Linked DNA regions of Homo sapiens. The protein of the gene in region 4 purifies or fractionates together with the protein of the main gene of each other region. This does not show direct contact. Each region holds a gene or a part of one and is shown on either strand. Other genes may lie near its edges.

Evidence for each region.
Region 1: the proteins of TSR1 (region 4) and HSP90B1 fractionate together in Homo sapiens (co-fractionation; one large-scale study listed by BioGRID). This does not show direct contact.
Region 2: the proteins of TSR1 (region 4) and PARN purify together in Homo sapiens (affinity purification with mass spectrometry; 2 studies listed by BioGRID and IntAct, with this or other methods). This does not show direct contact.
Region 3: the proteins of TSR1 (region 4) and NUP153 purify together in Homo sapiens (affinity purification with mass spectrometry; 3 studies listed by BioGRID and IntAct, with this or other methods). This does not show direct contact.
Region 5: the proteins of TSR1 (region 4) and PPP6R3 fractionate together in Homo sapiens (co-fractionation; one large-scale study listed by BioGRID). This does not show direct contact.
Region 6: the proteins of TSR1 (region 4) and RIOK2 fractionate together in Homo sapiens (co-fractionation; 3 studies listed by BioGRID and IntAct, with this or other methods). This does not show direct contact.
Region 7: the proteins of TSR1 (region 4) and PNO1 purify together in Homo sapiens (affinity purification with mass spectrometry; 2 studies listed by BioGRID and IntAct, with this or other methods). This does not show direct contact.

The regions. Positions count from the first base shown.
Region 1 is NC_000012.12:103,929,002-103,933,209, reverse strand, and holds the start of HSP90B1 (endoplasmin precursor), read right to left. Parts: upstream 2,801-4,208; 5' UTR 2,695-2,800; coding exon 2,646-2,694; intron 1,690-2,645; coding exon 1,587-1,689; intron 934-1,586; coding exon 792-933; intron 385-791; coding exon 268-384; intron 1-267.
Region 2 is NC_000016.10:14,620,261-14,623,760, forward strand, and holds part of PARN (poly(A)-specific ribonuclease PARN), read right to left. Parts: intron 1-3,500. UniProt on the Homo sapiens protein: 3'-exoribonuclease that has a preference for poly(A) tails of mRNAs, thereby efficiently degrading poly(A) tails.
Region 3 is NC_000006.12:17,617,232-17,619,925, forward strand, and holds part of NUP153 (nuclear pore complex protein Nup153), read right to left. Parts: intron 1-2,694. UniProt on the Homo sapiens protein: Component of the nuclear pore complex (NPC), a complex required for the trafficking across the nuclear envelope. Functions as a scaffolding element in the nuclear phase of the NPC essential for normal nucleocytoplasmic transport of proteins and mRNAs.
Region 4 is NC_000017.11:2,326,458-2,329,957, forward strand, and holds part of TSR1 (pre-rRNA-processing protein TSR1 homolog), read right to left. Parts: intron 3,019-3,500; coding exon 2,886-3,018; intron 2,754-2,885; exon of another isoform or gene 2,668-2,753; intron 1-2,667. UniProt on the Homo sapiens protein: Required during maturation of the 40S ribosomal subunit in the nucleolus.
Region 5 is NC_000011.10:68,596,752-68,600,251, forward strand, and holds part of PPP6R3 (serine/threonine-protein phosphatase 6 regulatory subunit 3), read left to right. Parts: intron 1-3,500.
Region 6 is NC_000005.10:97,180,448-97,184,507, forward strand, and holds the start of RIOK2 (serine/threonine-protein kinase RIO2), read right to left. Parts: upstream 2,801-4,060; 5' UTR 2,745-2,800; coding exon 2,679-2,744; intron 1-2,678. UniProt on the Homo sapiens protein: Serine/threonine-protein kinase involved in the final steps of cytoplasmic maturation of the 40S ribosomal subunit. Involved in export of the 40S pre-ribosome particles (pre-40S) from the nucleus to the cytoplasm.
Region 7 is NC_000002.12:68,156,570-68,160,687, reverse strand, and holds the start of PNO1 (RNA-binding protein PNO1), read right to left. Parts: upstream 2,801-4,118; 5' UTR 2,754-2,800; coding exon 2,547-2,753; intron 2,309-2,546; coding exon 2,159-2,308; intron 1-2,158. Other genes in the region: DNAAF10 (dynein axonemal assembly factor 10), read left to right, coding at 3,245-3,427. UniProt on the Homo sapiens protein: Part of the small subunit (SSU) processome, first precursor of the small eukaryotic ribosomal subunit.

The DNA.
Region 1 (4,208 bases), on a different chromosome or scaffold from region 4:
TGTTCTCTGTTAAAACAACTTGACTCTGCTGTTGAAGCACAGAAGCAGTCACAGATAATAAACAAATGGGCATGGCTGCATTCCAATAAAACTACTTAGAAAAACAAGTCAAGTTAGATTTGGCCATAGTTTGATGACTTTCAAGCCACTGAGACTTGGGGTTTTTTTGCCACTGCAAAATAATCTAGCCTATCTTGACTGATAGGGATCCTCTACCTTTAAGGATTCCTTTTCCTTTAAAAGAAAGAAAAACTGCCTTACACTTACCTTAATTTTGACTGTTAGTTCCTCATTTCCAGAAAGAGCATTTTCATCAGTCAGTGATATTAGCCTTATCTTATCTAAAGCATCAGAAGCATTTGAAATCAGTTCTCTCAGGAAAATCTAAATGGAAGCCAGAGGGAATACACTTAGACTATCCTCAAGATGCATTAAGATATTCGATTTTATGCCAAACCCATTTATTTCTTCTCTGTACCTTATAAAAGCACTCTTATTCACCTAACAGTGATCTTCAGGTATGCAATGCAAGAAGTTTAGTTTATGTGACTGCCCTTAGACTCACAACTATTATCAGGCCGTGAACCTATTTAGAGGTAAAGGAAAAGGAAAATGTCTGACACTCCCTTTCTTCCCAGATATCTGGTAGCAATTCTTGGACATATTAGGTATTTAAAGGTTGTTACCTACTTACTTGGATACTACATTACTTTTGCAGTAAATTAAGCAAATTTAAGTAAACAAGTATGCCACCATACAGAGATAAAATATTCTAACCACATGTTGCTTACCTCTTTATTTTTATACAATGAATTGATGATAAGTTTCATCATTCTGTTAACTTCGGCTTGGAAGGCAAACTTTTCCGACTTCTCTCTAAGTTCTCTTATTTGTGATGCATTTAATCCATCCAACTGAATAGCTTCTTCCTCTCTAAGGAAATCAGTTAGGTAAGCAAATATTGCATGGCATAGTTCCCTTCAAAACTAGAGGAATTATGATGAAAGCACAGGGGCCTCTGAATATTGTCTTGGGGGTTAAAATGGAAACCTTTATAAAATATAACTGATATACCGTCTCATTATGTTAGCACAGCAGTAGGCTACCTTTAACATTACACTGGAAATACTCGGTTCTTAAAATTGCCAGAAAAAAAAAAATCCCAACTTTCCTCTACTAAAAAGCAAAGTCATACTCATTTATGCTCCACAGTGAGGACTTCAAAACTGTCAATAAGTCCCAAGAGGCCAAATTTTAAAATATTGTTCAACTGACAGAAATCCCATTTTTAAACTTACTCGGTGTACACAGTTAATGAATACAAATCCAACTGAAAGTATCTTCTATAAAGTCTTACAAAGTTTATGGTGCTAGTATTCTGCAATATAGTTTTCAAAGGAATTCACTCAGTTTTCATCACTCCTAGGGACAAGTTAGGAGGTATGTATGCACACAACTCACCGGGTATTTAAATACAGGGTGTTAGACTTTATCTGGACCTTTGGAGAAGAGATACATAAGAAGTGACCGTAACTCACAAGGTTCACACGGCTTATCTGTATACGTAAGTTCAAATGAACACAAACCTCTGTACTACTTCATCATCCGTCCTTGATCCTTCTCTACTTTTACCCAGATCCTCTTCTACTGTACCATCCACATCAACTTCATCGTCAGCTCTGACCGACCCTGAAGATTTAACACGGGCAAACTCTTCAACATCACACTTCTCCAAGGAGGATGATCAAATAGGGAAGGGTAGGGGTTGCAAAATTCAGTTGGTAACTAAGGGAGGTGGGGATGAAAGAGTGCATTCCCTGGTTTAAATACCAAAGGTAAAGCCAAGACAGAACATCTATTTAAGTTCAGATGCTGAAGTCTCCAGTAGATCCTGAAATACGGAGGCAGTCACCACTTCTAAACAGTGTGTCTCCGATCATTTATAAATAACGTTAAGCAGACTGATACCAGGCCTCTTCTACACCCACACGTGTTGCGCGCAGGCCGAGCCAAGGCCTCCCAACTGATCAAGCCAAAACTTCGGCCTTCGTTAGCACAGGTCAGAATGCAAATAGGATTTATGCAACCTCTGGCGAGGGGAACTGAAATTGAGCCCAGAGGCATGAGAAGGGGGAGAAATGTTAAGAACCGAACTCCAGCAAAACTGAATCAAACACGCTGACACTGCCATTCCGCTGGCCCCAGGCCTCACGCTCCCGAGGCCAGCATCTAAGAAGGGACACGGGCTTGCGAGGAGTCGGAGTCTGGGGAATTAGGGGACGGGAAAGCTGGGATGGCCGAAGGTTGCGGTGGCCGAAAAAGTCCTCCGGGCGGGGAGGGGGGAGGGACTCGCACAGCTCCCGGGGGAGCCAGAGCCTCAGAGAGGCCCCACCCCGAGGTCGCTGAGACCTCCGGGCGAGATACTATTAGATCTGTAGGGCAGTTAGATGATGTTGCTCTCTTTTTTTATTTCCAGAGGAAGAAGAGAATAAACGTAATTCCCTTGCCCTCTTTCGAGGAATGGTGACGTCCCTTGGCCCACCGCAGGCCCCGGGATCCCCCCTCCCACGTTCAACGCCCCCAGGACCTTCGAGAAGCGGCCGCGTGTGTGGAGGGGGGACGTCTGCTCCTCCAGAATCACTCACCGAAGGTCAGCAGGACGCAGCAGAGGCCCAGCACCCACAGGGCCCTCATGGCGTGCGGCCGGTGAGTCTCAAGTCCCCTTCGATCGCAGGAGCCGCCTCCACCCCCCACCCCTGGGTTCGGATCCTCACACCTCCAGCCGCGCGGTCCGCCCACTACACCGCAAGCAGGTCGGGCCGCTTTTCACCCCCACTTCCCGCGGGCGGGGGACGGGAAACATGAACCCACCAATCGCGCCGCACCACGCACCCACGGCACCCAATGAGGATTCGTGAGGGGGGGCGGAAGTCCACCAATCGGAGCTGTCCAGGTGCGGTGACCGATGCCCGAAGCGTGGCTCCTTCCGATTGGTCAGGGTTTGCAGCTTTTCTCCAATCAAATGGCTCCGCGGGCCCCTCACACGTGGGACCGCCCCTTTGCCTGGGCGGCCTTGGCCTCTAAGGGAAAACGTCCAATGAATGTAAGCAGAGAACACATCCATCCTTTTAGAGAGGTCGCGGCGGAACTACTTCCGGATCCTAGAGAGCGTTTATTCCGTGACCGGGGAAACGGTAGCCATGGCAACGTGTTCTTCACCCTTTCCCATCTATGCCTGGGGTTTCGTTGGAAGTGATTCCAGCACGACTTTCGCGGCCAGCTTTCTCGTGTGGCGGCGCTTCTCGGAAAGAAGAAACACACGAGAGAGGTTGCAAATCCCCTAGAACCCTTTCAGATGGCGGGGGGGCGGGGGGGTGGCGGTGGTGAGAAACTACAGCTCCCGGCATGCAACGTCCTAGGGGTTCACTGCATTGAATGCTGGGGGTCGTAGTCTTTGGTCTCTGAGGACCAGCTGCGTAGTTTTGGCCCTTTCTTTCACGTTCCCCCAGCGTGTCTTTGCCAGAGCCCTGCCCTGCGTCTTAGATGTTACATCTCGTTCTGATTACAGTAGAGATATGTGCCTATTCCAGGAGTCTCCATTGTACACAGCTTTTAGAAGCGGGCCTAGAAAGCCTTCATGCCTCGGGCAAGGCCGCCCGGTTCTGGGGGGTCGGTCTGAGTCTGGGGGCTCCGCCTCCGGCTCAAGAGCACGAGTTTCCGAATCCGCCTACAAGTGCGTCACTTGGGCAGCCGGAGCGTTCACCTCCTCTGTGCCTTTCCGCGGCCGGAATCCCCAGGCCTTCCTTATCTGGTTTACAGAAGAACGTGGTTGGGACCTTCCCGACCACCTTAGGGAAATCGCGAGCAGCGCTGAGGCCTTCGACTCCCCAATAAAGTACAAAGGCGGCGGTGACCTGACGGTCGTAGAACCCTTTCTGTGAATCAGGTGGAGAGCGTGGTCGTAAAAGCGGGTCTAGCACAGAAAAGGAAAACCCTTAGTTTAACGAGTGCAGGAGGATGCACCTGCAGATATTTGAAAGCAAAACCTGTGGTGCTGCACATGAGAACGGGATTGCAGCTTTGTAACTTCATAGAAATACCCTGTCTGTGCTCAGAAGGACATATAAAACACCAGGTGTCTTTCCTGTGAGGGAAGTCCCTCATGCTAAACTTGTGCCTTTGGAAATATTTTCTACGTCTCTTTAACC
Region 2 (3,500 bases), on a different chromosome or scaffold from region 4:
CAGCTACTCGGGAGGCTGAGGCAGGAGAATGGTGTGAACCAGGGAGGCGGAGCTTGCAGTGAGCTGAGTTTGTGCCACTGCACTCCAGCCTGGGCGACAGAGCGAGACTCCATCTCAAAAACAAAAAACAAAAAACACTGTATTAAGTGAACAATACTATAGATGAAACACAAGCACGGCAAAATTATGGAGTTCATACTCAAATGAACTTAAGAAATAAGCATTACTGTAGCTACTCTAATTTTATTCTTGGCCAAGTCAGAACATCAGCAGGCTACACATCTGAATCATTTTCATCTGGTCCCTTTCCTGCACTGTACTTTGACATTATGCCATCAGTCTAGATTGAAGGACATGGTAACAAACAGTTCCATTAAACTTATCACAGTACTGACTTCAGAGATGTGATTGAAGATCAGGTTTTCTACAGTAATCATTTACTTATAATTCAAGGGTAAATGTTCTGAGGTCTCTATTCTGGGGAAAGCTATACTAATCCTGAGTTCTGGATTGTCCTAATCCTATGGACCACGGAATGACTGTGTTTCCCTCTTTTCTTTGCTACTAGGAAGCTCAGGGACAAACAAATTACACTTTCTTTGGCACAAATTCTGTGTTCTATTCATACCATAGTGATTGTATCATTTTTCTTTTCTTTCAAATTTTCATTTACTAATTTTTTAATCTTATGTTAAAAGGTAAATACCGTATATATCTTTAATAACCAAAACAAATCGTTTTGAAATGGTGAGATATAAAAAGACAATCTGAACACAGAAAAACACACAAACAAATAGAAGCACATGCAAATCACTTCCATCGTGTCCAGGCTTTTATACTTTACAACAAGCAATCTTTCCCTACCCCCACTTCTTTTTTAATCCTGTCCTGAACCAAGAACCAAGACTCAATGTATTTTGATTGGTCTGTGGGCTTCTGTCTACCATGGCTGGAGTGTTCTTATAACTCTGCCCACCTAAACATTCCATCTCTGACAAAGGCACTGAAACACAAACTGTGGAAGGCATTTTTGTCCTTCTAGTACTAGACACCAAAACATCCTACTTTCCTTTATCCCACTGAATTCAAAGTCAGAGTCATCTATGCCTTTCCTGAAGCTGCTTATTTTCTAATCAAAACAACACTCTTTGGGTTGTACAATAGTGTCAATGTACTTAATGCCACTGAGCTATACATTTAAATACGGTTAGAATAGTAAAATTTATGTTACATATATTTTACCACAATTTTTAAGAAAACCTCTGAACTTGGCCAGACACGGTGGCTCACGCCTGTAATCCGAGCACTTTGGGAGGCGAGGCAGGCAGATCACGAGGTCAAGAGATCAAGACTATCCTGGCTAATACGGTGAAAACCCTGTCTCTACTAAAAATACAAAAAATTAGCTGGGCATGGTGGCAGCGCCTGTAGTCCCAGCTACTTGGGAGGCTGAGGCAGGAGAATGGCGTGAACACGGGAGGCAGAGCTTGCAGTGAGCCAAGATCGTGCCACTGCACTCCAGCCTGGGCGACAGGGGCTTCGTCTCAAAAAAAAAAAAAAAAACCTTTGAACTAACAAAACCTTTTGGAGTTTACTAGCCACTACCTTTGATTTGTCATAAATGTAACATGTTCAAGATTGAAGAGATGAGGCTGGGAGCAGTGTCTCACGCCTGTAATTCCAGCACTTTGGGAGGCCAAGGCGGGTGGATCACTTGAGGTCAGGAATTCGTGACCAGACTGGCCAACATGGTGAAACTCTGTCCCTACTAAAAATACAAAAATTAGCCAGGCATGGTGGCACGCATCTGTAGACCCAACTACTTGGGAGGCTGAGGCAGAAGAATCACTTGAACTCGGGAGGTGGAGGTTACAGTGAGCCAAGATAGTGCCACTGCACTCCAGCCTGGGTGACAGAGTGAGACTCCGTCTCAAAAAAAATAAAAAGATTCAAGACATGAGAACAGATATTTGGGAGGACAATTTGAGACATCCATCAAAACTTTAAATGCATATATCCTATGTCTCAACAACTCTCCTTCTAGGAAATCTACAATACAAAAAAATTCTTACACATACAAAAAGATATACTGAACACAGATGTTGACTATAGAATTGCTGATAACCACTGGAAAGCCTCCAAATTTCAATTAACTGATCAAACAAATTATACGTATCCATACTACGAAATAAAAGACATTCTGCTGAGTGGCAAGTGCGAGTTGCATAAAATGTGAAATTAGGATTCCATATATATATATTTGAGACGGAGTCTCGCTCTGTCACCCAGGCTGGAGCGCAGTGGCGCGATCTTGGCTCAGTGCAAGCTCTGCCTCTCGGGTTCACACCATTCTCCTGCCTCAGCCTCCCGAGTAGCTGGGACTACAGGCGCCCGCCCCCACGCCTGGCTAATTTTTTTTGTATTTTTAGTAGAGACGGGGTTTCACCGTGTTAGCCAGGATGGTCTTAATCTCCTGACCTCGTGATCCGCCCGACTTGGCCTCCCAAAGTGCTGGGATTACAGGAGTGAGTCACCACACCCGGCCCATTTTTTACAATGTAAGCCTGGCGCAGTGGTACGTGCTTGTAATCCCAGCACTTTGGGAAGCCAAAGTGGGCAGATCGCTTGAGCCCAGGAGTTCAAGACGAGCCAAGGCAACATGGTAAAACCTTGGCTCTACAAAAAATACAAAAATTAGCTGGGCATGGTGGCATGTGCCTGTAGTTCCAGCTACTGAGGAGGCTAAGGCAGGAGGATCACTTGAGCTGGTGAGGTCAAGGCTGCAGTGAGCCATGACAACATCACTGCACTCTAGCCTTGGTGACAGAGACTCTGTCTCCAAAAAAAAAAAAAAGCTAATATGTATGTGTGTCTAGGCATATGTCTATATGTATACATGTACATAAAAGCTAGGAAAAAAGGAGTAAAATGGGAAGGAAGTGGCATGGGAAAAGGATATAAGAAGGGAAACACAGCCAGGCACCATGGCTAATACCTGTAATCCCAGCACTTTGGGAGGCCGAGGTGGGCAGATCACGAGGTCAAGAGATCGAGACCATCCTGGCCAACATGGTGAAACCCCGTCTCTACTAAAAATACAAAAATTAGCTGGGCGTGTTAGCACATGTTTGTAGTCCCAGCCACTCCAGAGGCTCAGGCAGGAGGATCGCTTGAACCCAGGAGGTGGAGGTCGTGGTGAGCCAAGATCGCACCACTGCACTCCAGCCTGGAAACAGAGCAAAACCCCATCTCAAAAACAAAAAAAAAGAAAAGAAAAAAAAAAGAAACACATCTGGCCAGGCGCGATGGCTCACGTCTATAATCCCAGCACACTGGAAGGCCAAGGCGGGTGGATCACCTGAGGTCAGGAGTTTGAGACCAGCCTGACCAATATGGTGAAACGCTGTCCCCATTAAAAATACAAAAATTAGCAGGGCGTGGTGGCAGGTGCCTGTAGTCCCAGATACTCAGGAGGCTGAGACAAGAGAATTGCTTGAACC
Region 3 (2,694 bases), on a different chromosome or scaffold from region 4:
ACTTATGGTTAAAGACAGTGAAATCAACAAATACACTTAGCTCTATCTTCTTTGAAAAGTGCATTAAAACAACAAGGGATTTTTACAAAGATATAGGTTTAGAAGCTGGAAGGCTGACTAGAGTTGATACTAAACGAGCAGTAGGGAAAGAACAGAAGCAATTGCATTTACACCAAACATACCCAAAATGTTTAGGTTCCAGATACCTATGGAAGTGAGGATGTAGTGGGAATTAAAAAAAAAAAAAAAAAAAAAGGATGGCAGAGTATGTTTAGAAGCAGATACCCAGAATCAATCCCTCCCAACACCAACACAAAGATGGTAATTATCAGTGGGTGCAGTGACTCATGCGTATAATCCTAGCACTTTGGGAGGCCAAGGCAGGTGGACTGCTTGAGCCCAGGAGTTTGAGAACAACCTAGGCAACATGGCGAGATCCTATCTCTATAAAAAATTTTTCAAAATTAGCCAGGCGTAGTGGCGTGCACCTGTAATCCCAGCTACTCAGGAGGCTGAGGTGGGAAGATCTTCTGAGCCTAGGAGGTCGAGGACGCAGTGTGCCCTGACTCTGCCACTGCCTTCCAGCCTGGGAAACAGAGTGAGACCCTATCTCAGAAGGAAAAGAAAAAAAAAGAAAAAAAAGATGGTAATTCTCCTCTTCCACCGCACCAGAACAGAAGTTTAGTGTTTTAGTCTTTGTAGAAGTGTCTGGACTGGGAGACACCACATACAGTTAAGGGCAAGAATATCATTTTGAAAACAGGAATTAAGTGTAGCTCGATATTCACAAAATACCGAGCGCTCCAGCCATCTTCCCAATCTTAGCTCCCAGAACACTGGCAAATGAAGTTCTCTGATACCCTCCATGCAGGAGACTGGATGCATCTTCTTTGGGGTATCTGACAGACTAAGTGAAAAGAATGAAGGATACTAACATCCAAACTTTCCCAAGTAAAATAATGCTAGATAAACCAGATAAATCTACAATGAAATTCAAGATCTGTAAGCCCTATCAATGTAGAAAGGATTTAAGTGGTATTTACGTGTCCTACACTCATAACAACTACAGGTAGCCAAGGAGTACCAGGCATTTGAGGACAGTATTTAATAAGAAACACTGAGACAAAAATAATAAAAGCAATTTTGGGAAAACTGACTCAGCAAAGAAACAAAATTTTAAGGAGAAAAATCTGAACTCCATATCTTTAATGAATACTTCATCCACTGGAGAGTTGGGTGGGGGGGAACCCAGAGGGGCATAAAAAGGAAACATCCAGAAAATAAAAAAGAATACTTAGAAATTAAAGAAATAGTGGAAGTTAAAATCTCTCTTTTTTTTTTTTTTTTTTTTAAAGATGGAGTCTGGCTCTGTTGCCCAGGCTGGAGTGCAGTGGCACGGTCTCAGCTCACTGCAAGCTCCACCTCCCGAGTTCACGCCATTCTCCTGCCTCAGTCTCCTGAGTAGCTGGGACTACAGGCGCCCGCCACCACGCCTGGCTAATTTTTTGTATTTCTTAGTAGAGATGGGGTTTCACCGTGTTAGCCAGGATGGTCTCGATATCCTGACCTCGTGATCTGCCCGCCTTGGCCTCCCAAAGTGCTGGGATTACAGGCGTGAGCCACTGCGCCCAGCAGAAGTTAAAATCTCAACAGAATGGTAATGAAAGATAAATCTGAGAAAGTATGACACAAAGACAAAAGGTAAGAAGGAAAGGAAGGATTAGGGGACAAAATCTTCAAATAAATAATTCAGGAAAATTCCCCAAAATGGAAGTTCACAAAAGAGCATGCTGCACTCCCTACACAAACGATAAAAACAAACCCACATCAAGACACATCCTGATGTATCAGAACAATGGAGGCAAAAGAGGAGAGTCTAACAATTCCAGAAAGAAGAAACAGGCCAAAGAGCAAAGATCAAGACTTCAGGCAACTCTGGAAGCCAGAAAAGTCTACAATGGAGAAATGCTTTCAAAATTATAAAAATGATTTCCAATCTACATCTATATTCAATCAAAATCTTACCAAACATGGGGAGAGAATAAAGATCCCTGCAGAGATGTATGGCCTCAATGTTTTCCATCCCTGAACCCTCAAGAATCACTGGAAGATGTGCTGTATCAGAAAATAGGGGAGTAACAGGAAAGACATGACACCCAGGAAACGGGTTCCTCTACGAAGCTAAAAGGAATCTCCAAAAGAATGGTAAAAAGAGGTTTCCCAAGAGCACAGTTAAACAGCAAGCCAAGAAAGCCTGGTAGGAGGAACAGGTTAAAAGACCCTGTGAGAAAAGTTCTTTCAGTGCTTACTTCAGCAGCACATACCCAAAACTTGAACAAAGAAGATTAGCATGGCCCCCTGCACAAGGATGACACCCAAATTTGTGAAGTGTTCTATATTTTTAAACTAAAAACTGATGAAAGAAATTAAAGAGAACACAAACAAATGTAAAGACATCCTATATTCATGGATCAGAAGAACTATTATTGTTAAAATGGCCATACTACTCAAAGCAATCTATGGATTCAATGCAATCCCTACCAAAAATACCAATGACATTCTCCATAGAAATAGAAACATATCCGGCCAGGCGCTGTGGCTCACACCTATAATCCTAGCAGTTTGGGAGGCCGAGGCGGGCAGATCACCTGAGGTCAGGAGTTCGAGACCAGCGTGGCCAACATGGCAAAACCC
Region 4 (3,500 bases):
TTACCCAACTATGAGCCATACCCAGCCTCCATTCCTTCACCCACACTGCCCTTGGCACACTAGACATCAAAGTTTCCACACTTTATCACACCCTTTTAAATTCTGAGAGACAGTGTCTCACTCTGCTATCTAGGCTAGACTGTATTTGGTGTTCTACCTTCAATGTAGCCCTCACCCCCCTTTTAAAAATACTAAACTTATAGGAAAATAAAATATTTTAAGGGCTGTGGTGTGAACACAGCTCACTGGAGCCTCAAACTCCTGGGCCCACTGGCTCAGGCAATCCCTCTTGCCTCAGCCTCCCAAGTAGCTGGGACTGCAAAGCACATGCCACCACACCTGGCTAATTAAAAAGAAAAATTTTTGGCCGGGCGCAGTGGCTCATGCCTGTAATCCCAGCACTTTGGGAGGCCAATGCGGGTGGATCACCTGAGGTCGGGAGTTTGAGACCAGCCTGGCCAAGATGGTGAAACTCTATCTCTACTAATAATAGAAAAATTAGCTAGGCATGGTGGTACACGCCTGTAATCCCAGCTGCTTGGGAGGCTGAGGCAGGAGAATCACTTGAACCTAGGAGGCAGAGGTTGCAGTGAGCCAAGATCCTGCCACTGCACTCCAGCCTGGGCAACAAGAGTGAAACTCCATCTCCCAAAAAAAAAAATTTTTTTTTCGTAGAGGCCGGGCATGTTGGCTCATCCCTATAAATCCCAGCACTTTGGGAGGCCAAGGCACGTGGATCACCTGAGGTCAAGAGTTTGAGAACAGACTGGCCAACTTGGTGAAACCCCATCTCTACTAAAAATACAAAAAGTAGCTGGGCGTGGTGGCAGACACCTATGGTCCGAGCTACTTGGGAGGCTGAGGCGCCAGAATCACTTGAACCTGGGACGGGGAGGCTGCAATGAGCTGAGATCATGTTACTGCACTCCAGCCTTGGTGACAGAGTTGGACTCTATATCAAAAAAAAAAAAAAAAAAATTGTAGAGACCGGAGTCTCACACTCCTGACCTCAAGCGATCCTCCTGCCTCAGTCTCTGCAACTGAGACTTTTATTTAGTTCCAGTTCTAAGGATCTGCCTTTACAAAATAAGCAAAGAAGTAAATAAAGTTTTATGCATACAGATCTAGTTTAGAGCAAAACATTAGAAATAGCCTAAGTGCTCACCCGTAGAAGCTCAAATAAGTATCAGTACATCACATACACTGGAATATATCCAAATGACAATAAAGCATTAAAAGTCTCATTAACTAATTAATCTTATGGAAAATTGATCAAAATCAATTAAGTGATAAATGCAATGTTTAACACCATATTTACAATTACAATCCAAATTGTGTAAAGAAAAAAAATGAGATCTGGATGAAAATGTATAAAATAAAAATGAATTTTCTCTAATATAAGGTAATTTTACTTTTACATTATTCCTTATTTTCCCAACTGTATAAAATATGAAAATAGTTCATCCTAAAAAAAAAAATCAAAACCATTTTGAAACAATAAAAGAATGACTGGCCAGGCGCAGTGGCTCACGCCTGTAATCCCAGCACTTTGGAAGGCCAAGGCAGGAGGATCGCCTAAGGTCGAGACCAGCCTGGCCAGCATGGTGAAACCCCGTCTCTACTAAAAATACAAAAATTAGCTAGGCGTGGTGGCGGGTGCCTGTAATCTCAGCTACTCGGGAAGCTGAGGCAGGAAAACTGATTGAACCTGGAAGGCAGAGGTTGCAGTGAGCCTGGATTGCACCATTGCACTCCAGTTGAGCATCAGAGTGAGACTCGGTCTCAAAAAAAAAAAAAAAAAAAAAGAGGCCAGGCACATTGGCTCATGTCTGTAATCCCAGCACTTTGGGAGACCGAGGTGGGCGGATCACCTGAGACCAGGAGTTCAAAACCAGCCTGAACTCCTGGTCTTGGTGAAACCCCATCTCTACTAAACCCCAACATGGTGAAACCCCATCTCTACTAAAAATACAAAAATTAGCTGGGCATGGTCGTGCATGCCTGTAGTCCCAACTACTCTACTCGGGAGGCTGAGGCAGGAGAATTGCTTGAACCCGGGAGGCGGAGGTTGCAGTGAGCCGAGATCACGCTATTGCACTCCAGCCTGGGCAACGGAGTAAGACTCCGTCTCCAAAAAAACAAACAAACAAACAAACAAAAAAAAACAAAAAAAACAAGAGGGGGCGCGGTGGCTCACACCTGTAATCCCAGCACTTTGGGAGGCTGAGGCGGGCGGCTCACGAGGTCAGGAGATAGAGACCATCCTGGCTAACACGGTGAAACCCCGTCTCTACTAAAAATACAAAAAATTAGCTGGGCATGGTGGCGGGCGCCTGTAGTCCCAGCTACTTGGGAGGCTGAGGCAGGAAAATGGTGTAAGTAAACCTGAGAGGCGGAGCTTGCAGTGAGCCTAGATCGCGCCACTGCACTCCAGCCTGGGCGACAGAGTGAGACTCCGTCTCAAAAAAAAAAAAAAAAAAAAAAAAAAAACAGAAACAAAAACAAGATTAAATCTTACCTTTTTTGGTCTTCAATTCCCCGTTCTAATGCCACAAGTGTTGGGATTACAGGTGTGAACCACTGCACCACTGCACCCACCCTAATACCCTTTTTATAAAGCTGCCAACTTCTATTCAAAACCTGCTATGGAACAAATACTCATGGCAAAAAAGCCTCAGTATCACACAGAAGTTGCATCACTGGGATGCTTCAGACAGGTTCAGACATTTTGAATAAAAACATCATTGGCTCTTAAGCCAGAGTACTGAAAATACCTCTAACCCAGAGATGTAAGATTTTGAAACCATATATTTTGGCACCCCTCCACCACAAGTCACTTTCCCAAAAGACAAGATGGACAAGAACCCAGCTTCCCCATTGCTAACCTGCAGTGTGCTGAGAGAATAAAGGTGAGGCTCGGAAGCGCCTGAATCCACAGTGAAATATGAGCTCTTCCTTGGCTTTCACAGGTTCAGTGTTGCCAGGGTCACGCCTCACCACCATATTCAATACTGACATCTGGGGACCAAGTAAGAAAAACAAAAATCTTCATAGTCTAGGAATACAATTGCCTAAACTGAAAGAAGGCAAACCAAACTAGCAGATTCAGACTCATTCTAAGAACTGACAATGCTAATTAATGGTGGAGTGTAGATGCTGAAACACGGGTTCATCCTTTACCTCCACCAATGACTGGCATTTAAGCCAAACACAGGCTGATCAGAGCTTTCATGCACCCTTCAATGCTAACCTACCTTCCTGCACCTAACAGAAAAGAGCTCAACATCTGCCACACAAAAATCAGTGGCCTTCAAGGCATTCACTCACCACAATCTCAAAACCACACTCATTCAAGCCCCTTCTTCTTGAGCCCTTACCAAAACCGATCAAAGAACTATCACATACCCCACAACATACACAACTACTGGCCACCAAGAGAAAAGAGATCTGCACTTTGGCATAAACTTTTTTTTTTTTTGACATAAGAGTTTCGCTCTTGT
Region 5 (3,500 bases), on a different chromosome or scaffold from region 4:
ATACTTCAAAAACTTCTAAAGGTTTGGGAAACAAACGTTCATGTGAAGGAGCCATATGGGCTGATAGCGAGGCTTGCCCCAAGCCTGGCCAGTCTCTGATTGCCCTGCAAGGCCTTTTTTATGTTCATCCCAGAGGCTGAAGCCCAGCTAGGGTGGACCTTGTGGTGACTTCAGAGCTAGATGGGACCAGATCAGTCATCCAGCAAACTGCCACATGTTGCAGATAAGGAAACGGGATGGGAGAAGAAGAGAGATCTTCTTTCTGCTGCCTGTTTTCCAGCCCACCCTCAGGAGGAGGAAGTGGACTTTTCTGTCCGTAATTCAGTTTCAGTCAACATGCCTTTGTCAAGTTCCTACTGTATGCCAGGTGTTAGGCCTGTAACTGTGAACGGGCCACAGACTCTGCCTCCAGGGGCTTGGGGTCGGCTGGGGAAGCAGATGGGCAGTGCAGGGGAATGGGTACAGGGTGCTAGAAGAGGGGAGCCTTCCATTAGGCCTCTTTGTAGAGGCAGGTGGGTATGAGGCTGAAGGACCCGTAGGGATTTGCCCGTGCGAGAGAGAAAACAGCTAATCCAAATGCCCAGAACGTGCTGTTTTGCATGGCTCGGGGATGAGGTGGCGGGAGCGAAGGCCAGAGGCCAGATCAGGAGTTGTATTCTGAAGGTTGTAGGGAGCCCTTGAGGATTTGACTAAGAAGATCATTATTGGTTCTGTTTCAAGACATTCATGGCAACAGTGAAAAATGGACGAGAAAACGCATGGTAGAGACAGGAGAACCATGAAGACATTGAACTGTTACACATGAGAAATAATGAGAACTGCAAGATGGGCTCCAGGCAGCAGGGAGGTGTGAGGAGGAGACAGGGCAGATGCCCTGATCTGTTGGCTCTGGAATCTGTAGGGTTTGTTGTTGTTGTTGTTGGTTTTTTTAATGTACAGTTCAAGGTTGGGTGCAGTGGCTCAGGCCTGTAATCCCAGCACTTTCTGGAGGCCGAGTCAGGCGGATCACTTGAGGCCAGGAGTTCGAGACCACCCTGGCCAACAGGGTGAAACCCTGTCTCTACTGAAAAAAAAAAAAAAAAGCTGGGCATGGTGGCATACACCCATAGTCCCAGCTACTCGGGAGGCTGAAGCAGGAGAATCGCTTGAACCTGGGAGATGGAGCTTACAGTGAGCCAAGATCATGCTGTGCACTCCAGCCTGGGCGACAGAGTGAGACTCCATCTGGGGAAAAAAAAAAAGTACAGTTCAGTAGTATATTCACACTGTTGTGTAACAGGTCTTTAAAACTTTTTCATCCTAAACTAAAACTCTGTACCCATTAAACAATTCCTCATTTCTACTTCCCCAGTCCCTAGCAGCCTCCATTCTACTCTCTGTTTCTCTGGGGTTGACTAGTCTAGGGATCTCATATAAATGGAATCATACAGTATTTATCTTTGTGACTGGCTTGTTTCCCTTAGCATAATGTCTTCAGAGTTCATCCCTGCTGTGGTGTATACAGGATTTCCTTTTGTTCGAAGGCCGAATGACATTCTGGAATCTTTGGTTCTTTTAGCAGGCTGGGTATGGTTAAGTGACAGGGAGGGAAACACACTTGGCTGGACTGCGTGCCGCTGCTGCTGTGACTGTGGGCCTGGGTGTAGGGATAAGCAGCGAGGAGGCGAGCACCCTGGATGAGGTTCGCGTTTACCTACCTCCCGGGGTTAAGTGTGGCAGGGAACCAGGCCTCCTGCTTCTCTGTTCCTTGGGAAAGACAGCTTTTGCATCTTCAGATCTCTGGAGACACAAGTGGGTAGGGTTGGGGAAGATTCTCTCTCAGGGCTTCAGGGCTACAGGGTTGCCCCAGAGAGCCTCTGCCATTCCACCAGTCTCTGTGGCTTCTGTTGGAGGTTTTGTGGACATTCAGAATCATTTAAAATGTTACACGGACTCTGAGGAGCTCATCTGGGAAAGACTATCTCAAAGAGATAACAGAAAAGTCATTTGTGTGTAATATAATTTAGTTGTAGAGTAGAACTCAGATAGAATGATTCCAGAGCTTTGCATAGAGTGGGCAGGCAAAAATAACTGTCAAGTTGACTTTTTGGAGGTTTCAGGTGAGATTTTCAAACATTCAAGCATTTATTCCTTCTTGGTGTCAGTGGAGCCCTGTGACACTCACACAGGTAGGTGGGCAAGAAGCATGGAGCGCACCCTAATTAAATGCCTACTCTGTGCAGGCCCTCCTGTGATCTTTGCTAAGTGAATAGTCATTATGAAATCAAACAGATGAAGTCAGATATCTTGGGGAAAGTCACAGTCAAGTCTGTCTTTAAACTCAGAACATTTCTATTCTACACGGGTACTTCTTAATCTTAGTCACTTGTGTCTGGGTTAAGCCCTTAAATAACTTATACCAGTTTCCCTAGCATTCCTTCCTGCAACCTAGAGATTCCTAATTATGATAATATCCCTGATGGAATGCAGTGGTTCCCACATCTGGCTTGTCCCCAGCAAAGAATTGAGGATTCAGCACTCTGTGAAGGAAAAGCATGGTGTGCAGTTAGAGCAGATCCACAGTGACCTGACTTCATCAGAAGGGACACATGTCTGAGGAGGTGACATTTAAGGAGAGACCTGCAGATTAGACCCAAACTTGGCCAGCAGGCAGCATAGTAAGAAGAGCCCCACAGACCGTAAGTGTGCTCAAGCAAGTCCTGCCGCTTCAGCCTCTGAGGCCAGACCTGGTTCTGCAGGACTTAGGAAGCCTAACTGCAGTGCACTGCAGGGAGCCCGCAGAATGGGCGAAGTGCAGTCAGACCCGGACTGGGAAGCATTAAGGTTATTTCTAGTTTATTGGAGTTGAATAATCAACATGTTCTTTTTTTAGAAAAATAACCTTTTTACTTTTGAATAATTTAGATTTATAGAAACATTGCCAAGATAGTAAGTCTCCATATATCCTTCACTTAGCTTCCCCAAGTATGAATACAGCCATGGTACATTTGTCAAAACTAAGAAATTAACATTAATCCCTCTTTGTGCATGTAGCTTTGAATCTCTGTGTAGTATTTCTTTTGGAACAGTTGTTAGAAATGGGAGGTTTGAGGCCAGGCGCGGTGGCTCACGCCTGTAATCCCAGCACTTTGGGAGGCCAAGGCGGGCGGTTCACGAGGTCGGGATATTGAGACCATCCTGGCTAACACAGTGAAACCTGTCTCTACTAAAAATACAAAAAATTAGCCAGGCGTGATGGCGGGTGCCAGTAATCCCAGCTACTCAGGAGGCTGAGGCAGGAGAATGGCGTGAACCCGGGAGGCGGAGCTTGCAGTGAGCGGAGATCGTGCCACTGCACTCCAGCCTGGGCGACAGAGCGAGACTCCATCTCAAAAAAATAATAATAAAAAGAAATGGGAGGTTTGAGAATGTGGGATCATTGTTAGAGTGCCCTCCAGGTGGCTGTGCCCTGTCCGCTCCTGCCCTCATTGGTGAGAGTGTCTTTCTCCCACAGCTCCAGT
Region 6 (4,060 bases), on a different chromosome or scaffold from region 4:
AGTACAGTAGCAGCTCAGATGGGATAGCATATAGAATTCATGCAAACGCGGCTGGAAGATACTTCTAGGATAGAGAAGGCATTAAAATGTAGACCAAATACTTTTATATTTTATCCTGATGAGAGCAGGAAGCTCTTGAAGATGTTTAGGCGTGGGAGACACACGAACAGGGTTATTTTAAGGACATTAATGTACCAGGAATATGCAAATTGGCTTAGAGATGGCAAAATCTGAGGGGGTACTCCGGAGAACTAAGACAGAAGTCCAGCTCAGAGGAAAGAGCCACCAGAACAGGGTAAGTGGTAGTGGTACTGGAAGGAAGGAATAAAAATCTTTAGGAAGTATTATGGGAGAGCTTGGCAATTAGATGTGGAAGGGTAAAGGGAACGGAAAGCCACAATTGGAAGTGATGAGGAAAAGCAAGTTTTAAGATTTTATTATTTTTTTTTTTTATAGAGCTTGGGAAAAGAGAAAGGGGGTAGAAAAAAATTGAATTTGGTTTGAGCACTGAGAGTCAAATAAAAATGTTTAAAGGAAAACTGGAGGCCAGGTGCAGTGGCTCACACCTGTAATCCCAGCACTTTGGGAGGCCAAGGTGGGTGGATCACGAGGTCAAGAGATCGAGACCATTCTGGCCAACATGGTGAAACCCCATCTCTACTAAAAATACAAAAATTAGCTGGGCGTGGTGGTGTGCGCCTATAGTCCCAGCTACTTGGGAGGCTGAGGCAGGAGAATCGCTTGAACCCAGAAGGTGAAGGTTGCAGTGAGCTGAGATTGTGCCACTGCACTCCAGCCTGGCAACAGAATAAGACTCCGTCTCAAAAAAAAAAAAAAAAGAAAGAGAGAAAATTAAATAGGAAAGGGGCCTATATTTAGGAATGAAGTTATAATTAGAAGGAAAAATTGTCAATTATTTTATAGAAGTGAGAGTTGAAGATGTGAAGTGGATGCTATCACTGAGCAGGAGATAATGGAAGAAAAGGAATGTTTGGGAGCAGAATTCTGGGGCAAGTTCATATTGAAAGCTAAGGGCAGCTAGTCAAACAATGATTATTGATATAGGAGGAGCCAAAGAAGTAAAAGGGAAGAGAGGCCCAAGAAAGGGTACCAACACTGGTGAGATTCAACTGAGACCGGAATGTCATATTTAATGACTAAGTCATTTCTTGGTGAACTTTACAAATAATTTAAATATTGCAGCGCCAATGTTTTGGAAGATAAATCTGGCATCATTTTGATGTCTCACCAAAACCTTAACTTTTAAATTTAACTTATTTTCCATGCTTTGTCTCTGCCTCCCCCGTCCTCTAACACTCTTACTTTTGACCCCTACTTCTGTCAGAGACACTAAGGAATGAGTGTGCTGAGAAAGCAGGAAAGGAAGGTATCTTTCCGAAGTGATAGTAGGTTTTCATAGAGAAAGTCCAGCTGATTAGAAGAATCTACATGAGAGGCAAAGTAAACATTGTCTTCCAAATTTCACACTGATTTTGCATTTGATAGTTTAATACTTAAGCGCTATTTAAGATTAATTTTAAAAATCCAAAACTTGAAGCCTTAACATAATGCAAGAACCAGTGTGACTCACATCGCATATCCTATTACATAATTACACAATATAGGTAGTCCTTATCATGGGGTTCACTCCTTACCAAAAGATAACGGCTCCTAAATAAATGTACAAATGTCTTGATCTATATATTAATTTCTGTGCCATAAGACTGAGGCCATAAAATCAGATTTTGTTACTCCCCTGATTAAAAACATTTAGTGGTTACCCCCACATTCTTTACCAAACCTCCAAGGCTCTGTAGTACATAATTTCTCACCTTTTCCGCTACATCTCCAACCATTAGTGTGCATCTCACTTTGCTCCAGCCACATTACATTGGCCTTTCCTCTCTTCAAAGACTTTTCTGTCTCAAGGCCTTTGCACTTACTACTGCTGTTTCCTCTGCCTCCAACTCTTTCCAAGGACTTCACTGGGCTGTCTCTTTCTCACACAGCTCCTATTATTCCCCCATTCATTCTTTCATTTAGTGAATATTTATTGATTGTCTACCAAAGGCCAATAACTTGTGCCCCTCCTCTCCACCAGATACATATACTTTCTATGCCATTATCCTTTATCATTTTCATAGCATTTATCCATTATCCTATTTTTCGTTTACTTGATGATCTGTGTCTCTCTCTCCACTTGTCTGTTTGAACAAGTGAACCTCCTAATGTTGCTACTAAAAAACCGACAAATATGTGTTGACTGAATGAATCAGAAAGACTGCTATGCGACTGAGTCTGTTAGTAGGGAAGTCAATATTATCAAATCTCGGGGGGGGGGGGGGGCTTAAACCTTTCACAGCTGGTCGGAAGCTCAGGATCAGAGAAGTTTCCAGGCCACAGAGATGCAAGCGTTTCTCTTCAGCGCAAAGCGAATAGCAGCAGAAAAGAAAACAATTATTAGAAGACGGGACCTTTGCTCTATCTGGGGGAAGGTAAGCTCCCAAACAAAACCTTTTTAAAAATCCGACTTTCTGAATGCTCTCTTCTCCATTCCCAGCTTCTGCCACGTCCCGGGTCCCAGAGTGTGCCTGCTCAGATCCCAGAAAACTTGCAGGAACAGGAAGAGGTCACACAGTGTTAAGGGGAAGGGAGAACAGGAACGGCGGGTTTCTTACCGCGGTCAAGACCCTGAAGTCATCTCGGCTCATGTAACGCAACTTGGCCACATTCACTTTCCCCATGGCGGCCCCAGTCCGAACCCAGATGCCTCTCCGACGACAGCCGCAAAGCGTAAGGCAGGTCGTTATTCCAGCCTCTAAGCGCTTTACAGCGCCAGATGGCTCGCGCACGCGCTGCGTCTTAGTATAGGTCCTTGTTAATAGTTAGAAGTGCTGTTCTCATTGATATAGGAAAATAAAACTACTTGTATGTCTTATGAAACACATAGTATGTAACAAGTGAACGTTTTATTTTTGTGTAATTTTTGCGTTGTGACTGAGTTGGCGGAGTGTAGATATTCTCTACAATGTGCCTTTTTTTTTCCATATCTGTCAGGACTTGCTGCCTCAATGACACGTTCCGCCTCAGAGAGCAAAGTGGTTACTTAATGGGAGGAGCAAATTTTTCCCGCAAACAACTTCTACTCTAGGCAAAGTGACTTCCAACAAGACAGGGGTAAAAGAACCTGAGCTAGAGTCCAGACAACCAAATCTGTTAAAGGTAAAGTGGACTGTAATCACACAAGCACGCCCTCTACTCCTAATTGCGCCTGCTCCGGCAGCTCCGGAGGGCGTGGTTAATGGAACTCATGCGCTTGCTCAGTACTTCTCTTAGGTTGGTCTAGGAGGCTTCGAAGTGCGCCTGCGCTGGTTGGGGTGGGAGTTTAAGGTGACACGTGGAGAGCGCGGCGGACGTCCTTACCTCCAGAGGAAGTGGGGATTTTGATAGTTCGGGCTGACCTACGCGGGTAGGACTTCGAGGGCCCAGGAGCGATTTAAGGATTTTAGAATAGTTACCCATACTGGCTCTGCAACTCCTCGATATTCAAGCCTTTGTCTGCTTTTTACTTGAATGCAGCATGTCTTTGATTAACCATCTTCAACCAATGAACATCTCCATTTAAACGGAATTTTTCTTTCTGTACTTACATAAGAAGGCATAGAAATGAATTTTTTTTTTATTTTTGAGACAGAGCCCGGCTCTGTCACCCAGACTGAAGTACAGGGGCGCGATCTTGGCTCACTGCAACCTCTGCCCTCTAGGTTCAAGGGATTCTTCTCCCTCAGCCTCCTAAGTAGCTGGGATTATAGGCTCACACCACCACGCCCTGCTAATATTTTTATTTTTAGTAGAGATGGGGTTTCGCCCTGTTGACCAGACTGGTTTCAAACTCCTGGCCTCAGGTGATCCGCCCCCCTCAGTCTCCCAAAGTGCTGGGATTACAGGCATAAGCCACCGCGCCTGGGCGAAAAGTTTTTAAAAAAACCAAGTGACTAACTTTATTTGTACAAATTTATGGGGTACGTGAGAAATTTTGTTACAAGTATTTAGGGTGTCT
Region 7 (4,118 bases), on a different chromosome or scaffold from region 4:
CTGATGACTGTGGCCAAGTTTCCTCACATCTTTAAGATGGGAATATCCTGAAGACTAAATGATGTAGAGCATGGTGTAATACCACTGTGTGTCTGGTATATGGCAGCATCAACAAATGTTAGTGGAATCCAAAGTGATTATCCTGCAATAAATAGGACAATAAAGCACATGAAAAGTTTAGGCACTGAAGATATGACTGAAAAATGGACATACCATAACAGAGAAAGAACTTGAGCTAGACCCGGAAAGATACTGGAACTGAAGTATAAAGAGAAAGGAGTAGGGAGGAGCGGACCTCTTTCAAAGGCCAAAGCCACCAAAAAGTATGGACATAAACAAACTTTATGATCCGTGAGAGACAAACTTGTGACTGAGTCTCCTACTTGAAAAGCAAGTTAAGTCCAAAACTTTTTCCTTTAGAAATGTTGAAGATGCTCACGCCTGTAATCCCAGCACTTTGGGAGGCAGAGGCGGGTAGATCATGAGGTCAGGAGATCAAGACCATCCTGGCTAACACGGTGAAACCCTGTCTCTACTAAAAAATACAAAAAATTAGCCGGGCGTGGTGGTGGGTGCCTGTAGTCCCAGCTACTCAGGAGGCTGAGGCAGGAGAATGGCATGAATCCAGGAGGCGGAGCTTGCAGTGAGCCGAGATTGCGACACTGCACTCCAGCCTGGGCAACGGAGCAAGACTCTATCTCAAAAAAAAAAAAAAAAAAAAAATTTTTTTTTGTTTTTTGAAGATGCCAGGATGTCATAAAAGCATTGTGATCTGGGAAACTTAATCTGGCACTGGCAGATGGATGAGTGGAGAAAGGAGAGACGTCAAACAATGAAGCAAGGGAAACCTACAACGAAACCACTCCTTGGCAGGAAACCATAAAAGCCTGAATGAGAGAATGGCAACAGGGACAAAGAGGAGTTACTCTATCATGTTCTATGATATTTTACACTTTATCAACTATTTAGAATAGTGCCTTTCTTTGTTCCATTATTATATTCCATTAACAGAGATGAGACTATACCAGTCCGGATGATGGTAAAAGAATCCTTAAAAAGGAAAATATAATTAATTTCGGTTATCGATTCTGGTATGAAATTGGCACCCAGAAAAGAAAGCCCAAAGTAAATTTAAATGTCTAATTCCCGGATTGATAGCACAGAATTTAAAATATATACATAGGCTCGGTGGGGCAGCTCACGCCTGTAATCCCAGCACTTTGGGAGGCCGAGATGTGATCACCTGAGGTCAGGAGTTCGAGACTAGCCTGGCCAACATGCTAAAACCCAGTCTCTACTAAAAATACAAAAATTAGCCAGGTTTGGTGGCAGGCACCTGTTAACAGTGAGCCAAGATCATGCCACTCACTCCAGCCTGGGTGAAAGAGCAAAATAAAAAGATATATATACACACACACACACACACACACACATATATATGCATGTTTCTTATCAAAATAATACATTTTTTAATCAAAAGAGCACCATTAAAACACAGTCATGCACTGCATAATGACATTTTGATCAGTGACCAACCGCTCATACCATGGTGGTCTCATAACAGTATAATGGAGAATATACAGAAACCTGATATATGGCACTGGATACCGGCAATGCAGATCAAGTAGATGAAATGACTGATATTCAGTAATGGTGCTGGGACATTTGGTTTTCCATATGAAAAAAATATATAAACAAATATACACATACCATCTAGGTTTGTGTAAGTACACTCTATAATATTCGCACAAGGACTAAGTCATCTGACAAAACATATCCCAGAACATATTCCCGACGCTGACTGTATATACTTCTTGTAAAGCAGCAAGTGCTTATATTCATTATTTACCTGCTTCTGTTTATGGCAATCTCTTTACTCGACCTTTTCTCAATTTGACATAGAACATTATAAAAGATACACAGAAGAAGAGCCAGTATTTTGGTGTGATCTCAGAACTAATTTACAAATTCAATTAATATTTGTATCGAATGCAGATTTTTAAGGCATTTGGGAAGTTCAAACTCAATATGGTAAATTTTTAAACTGGACAAAAACCATACAACAGAAAAGTCCCATTAAGTAAAGCCTATTCATGCCTTTTCATCTCTGTAGGAGAGAAAGCCTGGTGTATTGGGAAATGATTGAGATTTTCCTTACCCTGATTTCTACATTCCTTGATTTCAAGTTAAAGCGTATCTGAAGTCCCAAATGTTCCACAATAGGAGTAAATATCTTCATCCAGTTTTCTTTCAATGGTGTGTATCTGTTAGCTGGGACTGGAATTTTCCTTGTTTCTTCTTTCCCACTCTGTAAATAAAAGAACACACAACTCAGAAGGCTATGGAGGGACGGTGATGGAGTTTAAAATGACATCTGATCCACAAAGGGCCTCCTTTAACTGAACTAGTTACACTTCAAAGAATCACTTCTCTCTGAGCATCACGGCAGAACAGCCCCACCGCAGCTTCAACATTCTCCAGAGGCCATCGGCTTGATCCGCGTCTGGCCCTTGCCTCGTTGCTGTCCTAGGGTCCCAGCCACATACCAGGAGCCCGTCCCCACAGAGGGGTGGGAAGACGGGCCTCTTCGCCGGCCTGGCCTCCTCTGTGTCCATGCGGCCCGCATCCCCGCCCTCTCCTGCTGCGGACAGCTGTTCAGCCTGTCGTTTCTTCGCCCGTCGGCCACCCTTGCGGGTGACCTGGGTAAAGCCCTCCTCTGCCCTGGCGCTCTGCGTTTCCATTTCGGATTCCATCCCCGGAAATCTTAAAGCGCTGCCGGCTGAAACACGTGCGCAGCTGCACCACGCAGAAGCCAGCCTCAGCCAACCACCCCTGCAGCTCCGCCCCTTTCCTAAAACGTCACAGGCCGGGGACCTGCAGGATTTGGGGCCGGTGGGGGGGAAAACGGGGTTAGGCTGTCCTAAGATATGCCTGATGGTCTTGGGCTCACTCCAGCCGCGCAACTCCCAGCCCAAGTATTTTGTAATCTCTAGTATGTATGTGTGCGAAAGGCAGTGGGTAAAGGCGATAAACAAATTCGTGCTGTTGTGAAGGAACATTCTGTGCGATCGCAGGAGCGCATCTGGCATTATCCGGGGATAACTACAGCCAACATGCCAGGGCATCTGGGGCAGAATACGGAAAGCGGGAGGGACAAATTGCCAATGTTTGGAGTCTGGTTTCCAGGTTGCCGTTTTTGGGGGCTCTGGGTGTGGCGGTTGCCGTAGCTGAAATTGGCTGCACCATGTCGGCCTTCGAGAAGCCTCAGATCATCGCCCATATCCAGAAGGGCTTCAACTACACGGTGTTTGACTGTAAGTGGGTGCCCTGCAGCGCCAAATTTGTGACCATGGGCAACTTCGCACGGGGCACCGGCGTCATTCAGCTGTACGAGATCCAGCACGGGGACCTGAAGCTGCTTCGGGAGGTGGGTGCCGGGTCGAGGATCCGGACTGCCGTTGGGGGCGAGTGCGGATCCTGGGGTCTGCATTCCTCTTTGCCAGAGCCTTCGCCCAGCGTCCCCCAAAGCATGGCTTGAGCCGCGCGAGACCAGAGAAGCTGACCGCCGACTGAGGAATGTTTCCTATTTAAAACCTTTCTTCTCATCCGCGGGGTAGTTCCTCCGCGCCCAACCGTCCTGCCACCCCCAGTGCAGTCCAGCCAAAGCGGGCACCAGGATGCCTGCAGTGTGGTTGGAAGAGGCAACCTAACACATTCGACAGGCATCAGCTGAGTGCCTGGTATTCCCAGGGATGTGAATGGTAATGTCCCCCATCTCATGGAGTTTATTTTCTAGTGGGAGAGATACTCAGTTCAATAATCAAAGCAACGATACATAAATACAAACCGAGATGAGTTGTCTCACACAAAGGAACACGGTTACGGTTCAATGAGAGTGAAAACAGATTTGGGATGAATGAAAACAGATTTTGGTATGTGCAGAAGCTAACTAGGTCAAACTAGGAGTAAAGGACAAGGTTTCCAGGGCTTCTGCACATGCAGAAGCTCAGTGATGGGAAGAAGTTTATCTCCTTAAGAAACTAGAGGGATAAGCAGGAACCAGACATTGCAAGATCTGTAGGACATTCAAAGGATTTATGCCTTTTTTCTAAGAAAAA